2 separate regions of the Homo sapiens genome follow, and region 1 is linked to region 2. The links come from fine-mapping of genetic effects on gene expression. A gene starts in region 2. The other region holds a variant in brackets. All regions are shown on one strand. Distances are from middle to middle.

The links. PIP is the estimated chance that this variant, and not a neighbour inherited with it, causes the effect.
Region 1: its variant is fine-mapped to the expression of CARS1 in tibial nerve (GTEx, PIP 0.94).

Annotation. Positions count from the first base shown.
Region 1 is chr11:3,004,030-3,008,386 of GRCh38, forward strand. It overlaps CARS1 (cysteinyl-tRNA synthetase 1), which reads right to left. Exons shown (of 23, transcript NM_001014437.3): 19 at 2,850-2,930; 20 at 1,337-1,404. Among named protein-coding and RNA genes, the nearest start is that of NAP1L4, 14 kb to the left of the region's middle. The variant T/C (reference allele first, on the strand shown) is at 1,675.
Region 2 is chr11:3,055,440-3,059,846 of GRCh38, forward strand. It overlaps CARS1 (cysteinyl-tRNA synthetase 1), which reads right to left and starts at 1,984. Exons shown (of 23, transcript NM_001014437.3): 1 at 1,904-1,984. The coding sequence starts at 1,928. LOC124902615 (a long non-coding RNA gene) reads left to right here and starts at 3,185. Exons shown (of 2, transcript XR_007062555.1): 1 at 3,185-3,579. RefSeq lists an enhancer at 1,638-2,170.

The DNA of each region.
Region 1 (4,357 bases), 51 kb before region 2:
CTGCCAGGGAGTGCAGCAAGCCAGGGCGTCTGCACAGCCAGCACCAGGCCACCTCACAGCACAGCACGGCAGGCGAGACCCAAGGCTAGGTGAGTGACTGTGATGGAATGGGGAGGGGCCCTGATGAGGCAGTCACACCAGCCAACCTCACAGGGCAAGCCCAGCTCTTCCCAACCTGCCAACCAGGATGGACCTGCAGACCACTCACCACTGTCTAGAGCTTTCCCCAGAGTTCCAGTTCGTTATTCCTCCAAAGCACTGCAAACTCCAGCCACCCACACTTGGATCTGGCATGAGCTCTCCCCTCGTGCCTTGGGCCAGTGCAGGGCTAGGCATAGATGCCTTCCCTGACCTTGTACATCCCATCTATCAATCAACCACCCTGTCGATTCTCCTTCCTCAGTTCCTCCCAGAGCCTCCTTCCTGAGAGCTGTGGCATCCAAACTCGCCCTCCACGGTGGTCTCCTGCTTTAAGCCTCTTGGGGACCCACCTGCTGGTGGCAACAGCCCCCATGGCCCACCTCCCATGGTGTGCACTGGGGGCCCAGGTGCCTCTCATCCTGCTGCCTGCATCCCAGGGTACCCCATGCGCTGTGCCCAGAGATTCTGACATTGCGTTTTTGTTCCTGTTCTTCTGTCCTATTGGGCACCGAGGAACTTGGGCCATCCCTGATCCTGGGGGCGTTGTGGGGTGCAGGTGGGGAGTATGCTGGGAATAGGAGGTGGAGATGCATCAGTGACACGCGCCACTCAGGTGAGGGCACGGTGGGACTGGGATCTTAACATGTCAGCTTCGGGCCAGGCGTGGTGGCTCAAGCCTGTAATCCCAGCACTTTGGGAGGCCAAGGTGGGTGGATCACGAGGTCAGGAGATTGAGACCAGCCTGACCAACATGGTGAAACCCCATCTCTACTAAAAAAATACAAAAATTAGCTGGGCACAGTGGTGCGTGCCTGTAGTCCCAGCTACTTGGGAGGCTGAGGCAGGAGAATCCCTTGAACCAGGGAAGTGGAGGTTGCAGTGAGCCAAGATCGTGCCACTGCACTCCAGTCTGAGCAACAGAGTGAGACTCCGTCTCAAAAAAAAAAAAAAAAAAAAAAGTCAGCTTCACAGTTTGCCAAAAGTGACTGGTTTTCACTTAAACTGAGGGAATAATCTTTTTAAAAGAGGTCCTTCATTAGAAGATACTAGTTAATTTTTCTTTCTGACATTTATAAATACTGGGATTTTAATAAAAGTGTAAACATCAATGCTTAAAAAGTAAACTATGTAATAATCGCAATGGTTTTTACATTTTCAACAAATATCACGCTTAAGTCATTTTCACTTTACTCACCCGTCTCTTTTCTTCTCTCTCTTTTAATAAGGTGTTTCTGTCTACCAGTTTCACCACTGTGGGCAGTCCTGCAAAATAAACTGCGTGTGAGAAGAGTCTGGGCTCTGTGGGCCGTCCCCACTGCGGGGCCAGCCCTGCCCTGCCCTGCCCTGCCCAGACCATGCGGTGCTGCCCAGTCAGAGCGAGGGCCCACAGGAGAAAAACAAACAAAAACCTCCATAGCAGCAGTGAAGCACAGGAGAACATTTTGGTTTGTGTGTGTGTGATTTTTTTTTTTTTTTTTTTGAGACAGAGTCTTGCTCTGTCATCCAGGCTGGAGTGCAGTGGCACGATCTCAG[T/C]TCACTGCAACCTTTGCCTATCGGGTTCAAGCAATTCTCGTGTCTCAGCTGCCCAAGGAGCCCACACCCAGCTAATGTTTTGTATTTTAGTGGAGACGGGGTTTCACCATGTTGCCTAGGCTGGTCTCGAACTCCTGAGCTCAGGTAATCCACCCACCTCAGCCTCCCAAAGTGCTAGGATACAGGTATGAGCCACCACACCTGGCGAGAACATTTTGTAACGAGAAGGTAGGAAGGTCTTGCCAGCCAGGAGTAGGAAAATAGGACATGACATCTGAGATTTAAAATTACCAGGGGCAGAGTGGAAGAGTGGAATTGGAGGGTTCGTAACACAAAGAAATGATAAATGCTTGAGGTGATGGACATCTCAGTTACCTAGATTTGATCATAGTACCTCATACGCATGTATCCAAATATCACACATAGCCCATAAATATGTACAACTATTATGTATCCATAAAAACTGAAACTAAGGCTGGGCATGTGGCTCATGCCACTTTAGGAGGCCGAGGTGGGCAGATTACTTGAGGTCAGGAGTTCGACACTAGCCTGGTCAACACAGTGAAACCCCGTCTCTACTAAAGATACAAAAATTAGCCGAGCGTGGTGATGGGCGTCTGTAATCCCAGCTACTCGGGAGGCTGAGGCAGGAGAATCGCTTGAACCCGGGAGGCAGAGGTTGCAATGAGCCGAGATCGCGCCACTGTACTCCGGCCTGGGCGACAGAGCGAAACTCTGTCTCAATAAACAAATAAATAAAAATTGAAAATAAAAAACAAAAAAATTAACTTTCTGTGGAACAAAAAGACCTCCACGAAGTGGGAGAACAAGCATGCAATCTGTTGACAGTGTACAGGATACAGGCTGGTTCCTCAGCTGAGAGCTTCAAAGGCGGTAGCAACAGGGGCAGCGGGCAGCCAGGCCCCTAGGGGAGATGATGCGCAGGGGAGGTGACACCACCACACGCAGCAGTGGGAAGGAGCTACGGGGTGCTCCCCTGCCCCTGCCAGGCTGGCCAGCGTGGGAATGGCGCCGGGGGACCCATGGGGCTGCCACTTTGGGATTCTGCATCAGCAATCATGAAGCATGAGCCTCAGCCCAGCCCCGGGAGCTCTCCTTGTGACACCTCTCCAAGCTCCTGGTAACTTTGTAGCAAACAGCAAGGGCTCACCCACCTTCGTGGTCTTCAAACCGCACCCCAAGCTCGGGCAGGATGTTGTCCCGCAGGGCATCGCTGAGCTGCAGAATCTCAGGGACTGTAGGAGAAGCAGAGCAGTTCCCTCAGACATGGAGGAGCCAGGGCCCACACAACCAGTGCCTCCTCCAGTGCTGGGGAAGGAGGGGCCGTGGCCCACAGAACAAGTGCCTCCTCCAGTGCTCAGGAGGGAGGGGCCCCGGCCCACAGAACGAGTACCTCCTCCAGTGCTTGGGAGGGAGGGCCCAGCAGCTTGATTGGCTGCAGAAGCCCAGAGACTAGTGTCTCCCGTAAGCCCAGGGGCTGTTCTGGGGGTGCAGGGCAGAGCCAGGAGGAAGCATAGCACACTGGCCGCCGGAAGCAGTTCTTCCAGGAAAGGGACACAAGTTGGGCCGACAGCAGGGGTGGGAGGGTCAGGACAGGCCTGGGGGTCCCTTCGGGTGCTAACACTCTTCATCTGAGGCAGCCTCTCTGTTGGTGCCAGAATCAGCTTTCTTACAGAAGGACCATTTACACTCAAGCCCCAAGGACTTGGTTCCCAAATGCACACGGGACTGCGATGGGGGTCCTGACCGGCACCCAGGAGAGCTGAGTCCCAGGACCACCAAGGAGCTCGAGCTCTGTGAGAATCAGCCCTCCCAGGGCTGAAGCGCACGCAGCTGTAAAGGCGGGGCTGAGCGGTGGGGGTGGACCGCAGGTTGCTTCCCAAGACTGTGCTCACCTCTGCCTCTGACTGGGGACCTGACCCAGCTGGGAGGGTGAAAGGAGGCATGACAGGGAGGGCGACTGTGACCTCCATCACATGGGGAGGGAGCTTCGCTTGGAAACCCATGTGTCTGTGGCTGACTTCAGAGCGCAGCAGTGCAGACTTGCCCGGCATCCCACGGTTCTCCTAGTGGGCTCCTCACGCAGTCTCTAGCAGGCGCCCCCTCTGTGTCTCTGCTCTGCCCGAGTTTTCCCGTTCCCAGCCCACGCACAACGCCCAGGTAGAGAACAGGACATAAGAAGTTTTGGGTGTTACAGGGTAAATGGGATGCCAACCTATCTCAGAAAGACTCCAGAGTATCAGGTGATGTGACAGCATCTCCTAGACTACATCAACAGGACAGATGCTTGCTGCTCTCCAAGTGACAACTTTCTGCTCTGAAATCTGACCTTGGGTTTGCTGGAATCACCACACCCTTTAGTTTTCTTCTGGCCCCTCAGCTTGCTGCGCCCAACTGTGCTAGGCGGGCAGGTGCCCTGCCCCCCAGCCTGCTGGGACCCCCACCATCCCACCCCATCCTCCTGCCTGCCCTGCCTTTGGGCAGCACTGACCATGCACATGCTGCCATTCTCGTCTGTCCTTTTCCTGCTGTGTCCTCATAACTGAGACCCCTAGAGCTCCTTGCTGGGCACCCCACACCTTCATTCACTGCTAGATAAAATATTCACATATCCGGGCAGGCACGGTGGCTCATGACTGTAATCCCAGCACTTTTGGAGGCT
Region 2 (4,407 bases):
CTACGATTGGATTTTATTTCCTGTTCTCATCTTTGAGAGTGTGTGTGTGATGGGAGGAGGCGATAGTAAAGGCAGGTGGGCCATGCCCTGGGGCAGAAGAACACTGGCTGGAGATGCTGTGCGCAGGCTGAGGACTGGGCAATCTGCCTGCTGCCCTGACAGCCCGGAGAGGGCAATCCCAACCTATATGGCAAGCTCCAAAAAGAAGGCAATTCTTACAAGGCTCTGAAAACCTAAAATTCTAAAGCTATTTTTAAAAACAAGATACAAAACACTACTAATACGTCATTTACGTTCACAAATGAACAAAAACACATTTTTAGTTTGAAAACAAACAGGCCCTAACTTTCAGCACAGACACAGCACTTAATTGAGTGCCAGGCACTGTTCTACGTCCTTCCCATCTATTAATTCATTTACACTCCATGCTCCAAGGTAGGAGCCATTACGCATGGTTTGCTGTGGGGCGGGAGGCAGAGTTGGAACCCTGGCCCTTCCAGGGTGGTTCCAGAGTTGGGGCTGTTAACTATGATGCTGTTTTACAGGAATCTGGGTGACTTCTGAGGGCCGCTTGGCTCTGGGACGGGTGGAGATGGTGCTGGAATCCAGGCACACAGGTAGGGTGGTAGGCGGCGTGCCTGGAAGGTGACCACCTCCTGCCACTTGGCACAAGAGTGTAGCCCTGTCATCTGGGTGTCCCCATGCCGCCAGATTACTCGGGTTGTCATAACTACCTATCTATAACCCAATAAACCCTCAGGGGCAAAGGGCACCACCAGATGCTAAGGAAATCTTGGTACGATCTAAACTGAGGGTGGGGGCTGGAGGTGTCTTACAAGAACTTGCATCTAATTTTTGCCAGCCAAAAGAATTAAAAACTAGATACTGAGAATGTTTCCTTTGGAAAGGCTGCTCCAGACTGTTAGGAATCTGGGCTTTCTGATTCAGTCTCTTGCCTTTCCAGCACCTAAAATCTTGCTGGAGGGACAGTGAGAGAAGAACCCACTGGTCTCTCAAGGTCTACCCGCTGGTGACATGAGTGACTGGGGGAGCTGACACAGCTGTGTCCCTGGGGAACCTCCCGGGTTGGCAATAAAATGGGGCAGTAATGCTCTGACAATCAGCTTGCAGTGGACTGCCTGCGGAACTGGAGATGAAAGCCTTCGTAAAGCCCCAAGCCCTTTTACTGTGTGTACGCGTACCCCTGGCGTCCTCTGCCCCATTTCCCTAAATACCAACCTCAGGTGCCCTCCGCCCACCTCCCGGAAGCTGCCAGGTCTGGGCAGAAAACCAAAACAACCCTTGGGCCTTTGTCTCCCCCCTAAAGGCCAGCTGGGGCAAGAGGGAGCGAGGGCCCGCCCAGGCACCGGCTGGGGAAAGGCTGTTTGATGTAGGGCCACCTCCCGGGGTGAGGATGCAAGGGGACCTCGGCAGGAACCAAGTGAGGAAACTGAGGCTGGGTGGTCTGGGCAGCGCCCCGCTCGGGCTCGGGTCCCCGCGGGGTCTGTGCTCCAGCCACGGGTCTGGCAGACCCTCACGCAGGAGTCCCAGGGGTCCCAGTGGCCGTCCCTCGGAGCCGGGCACCCGTTGTCCTTCGGATCCTAGGACGTGCCACCCCTCGAACCTCAGGACCCGCCGTCCCTCAGACCCCGGGCACTGACACCCCTCAGACCCCGAGCACCCCCGCCCCTCGGACCCAAGGACGTGCCGTCCCTCAGACCCCGCGCACTGACACCCCTCAGACCTCGGGCACTGCCGCCCCTCAGACCACGGACACAGCTGCCCCTCAGAACCCATGCACCCGGGCCCCTCAGACATAAGGACTCGCTGCCCTTCGAGCCGAGCACCCAGCGCCCAGTCAGGCCCCCAGCCGCCCTCAGCCTGGCCCGGCCGCGCCGCTCACCCTGCTGCCCGGAGGAATCTGCCATGGCTGGGAATCCCGGACCCGCAGCTGCGGCTACAGACACTTCCTAGAATCTGATGCAACCGCCGCCCCGGAAGTCGCGCCCCACGCCGGGCCCGTCTTCCGGGACACGCCCGGTCGCTAGGCAACTACCAGGGGCTCCGGATGTCGCCGGCCCGGAGCATGCTGGGAGCTGTAGTTCAACCCAATGGCGACCCGCGCTCCGGAGCATCGCGCGGCCAAGCGTTCAGTGGCCGTGCTGGGAGTAGTCAGCCCAGCCGCGGGGAGACAAGCACTAAAGACTGAGCGTCCTGTAATAGGTGTTTAAGTCATGATTGCGCTAAGCGCCGTGGGGACCAGGCCCAGCCTGGAGGTCAGAGGCGGCCTCGGGACAGGGTGTGCTGGCGAGACGGGATGGTTCCCAGGAGGCCGACCTGGAGCAGGGCCTGGGGATGGGCGGGAAGAGCGCTCCAGGCCTAGGGACCGCCCTGCCAATGACCCTGCGGAAAGCAAGCCACTATGAAGTGTTGCGTGAACAGGCTTCTCCATCTCCTTCTCAGACCCCATTCTGGAGCCATCCCCAACCCCCTTAGGGCTCCTGCCTTCTGTGTGCATGATGTCACCTCCCAAGGATATCCCACCCAAGGTTCGTGCACCCATCCAAAATGAGAGGAAATGCTATTTAAGAAACAGAATTTTAATATGTCAAGAAAAATTATTAGCCAGGATTAGTGGCTCATGCCTGTAATCCCAGCACCTTGAAAGGACAAGGCAGGAGGATCATTTGAGTCCAGGAGTTTGAAGCTGCAGTGAGCTACGACTGTGCCACTGCATTCCAGCCTAGGCGACAGAGTGAGACCCTTTCTCAAAAAATAAAAAGTAAAAAATCTTCTAGTTACTTTTTGGAACCTCATGTCTAATTTCATAATAAATTCTAAGGCCGGGCACGGTGGCTCACACCTGTAATCCCAGCACTTTGGGAGGCCGAGGTGGGCGGATTATGAGGGCAAGAGATCGAGACCATCCTGGCCAACATGGTGAAACCCTGTCTCTGCTAAAAATGCAAAAATTAGCTGGACATGGTGGCGCTTGCCTGTAGTCCCAGCTACTCAGGAGGCTGAGGCAGGAGAATCGCTTGAACCAGGGAGGTGGAGGTTGCAATGAGCCGAGATTGCGCCATTGCACTCCAGCCTGGCAACAGAGTGAGACTCCGTCTCAAATAAATAAATAAATAAATAAATAAATAAAATAATAAATAAATAAATTCTAAATTCTACTGGTGGCTGGAAAAAAAAAAGAAGAAAGAGTTTGTTTACATTTCTGCAAAGATCCTGTAGCATGTGCTGTAACTTGCCCAGGATGTGGGAGGCTCTGTGAGACCCCAACTAATCCCAAAGGAGGGACCAAGTCCAGGACTTAGGGGACGAAGTTCTGGCCAGGTCCTACCATGACTCTCACAGTGCCTGTTTCTCACTCATCACTCTAGGACCATGAGTCACCCAAGCCCAGCTCGGCCACATGCCTTCCTGGGAGAAGGAACCGGAGGCGCCCAGGAGAGTCAGAAGCCTCTTAGAGATAAACATTCGGCTAAGGCTTGCCCTGCCCTTCCTTTCTTGCACTAAGAAAGCCTCCTGACATCAGGTCAGGCAAGCCAGAGTTTGGCTGTAAGACCTGGGGTGAGTTTAACTTCTCTGAGCTTCCAGATGTCTTGTTTTTAAATCTGCAAAGTGGGGCCGGGCACTGTGGCTCACGCCTGTAATCCCAGCACTTTGGGAGACCAAGGCGGCCAGGTCATTTGAGGTCAGGAGTGCAAAACCAGCCTGGCCAACATAGTGAAACTTCATCTCTACTGGGAAAAAAAAAAAGGGTCTGCAGAGCGGAACTGGGAAATGATCACCTGCTCAGGTGGCCGAGCTGTGTCTAAGAGTGCTGCAGTGTCTAGCAGCAGTGGGTCCCGCCTCCCCAGTCCTGCTGCGTCCCAGCCCTACCACCAGGGCAAGGACACTCTCTGAACCTCAGCATCCCCCTGGTGTTGTAGTTCTTTGGGACAGCACATTGGGTTACAGGTTGTTATGGGTTGCATTGTGTCTCTCCCAAAAGATGTGGAAATCCTATAACCACCAGGACCTGTGAATGTGACCTTATTTGGAAATAGGGTCTTTGCAGATGATAAAGTCATAAGATGAGGTCATTAGGGGGGACGTTAATCCAGTATAACTGATATCCTTGTAAAAAGGGAAAATTTCAGCTGGGCATGGTGGCTCACACCTGTAATCCCAGCTCTCTGGGAGGCTGAAGAGGGAGGATGGCTTGAGCCCCAGAGTTTCAGGTTGCAGTGAGCTATGATTGTGCCACTGCATGCCAGCCTGGGTGCAGAGTGAGACCCTGTCTCTAAAATAAATAAATGAATAAATAAATACACATATATAAATTAATTTAAAAAAATTTTTTGAGACGGAGTTTCACTCTTGTTGCCCAGGCTAGAATGCAATGGTGCCATCTTG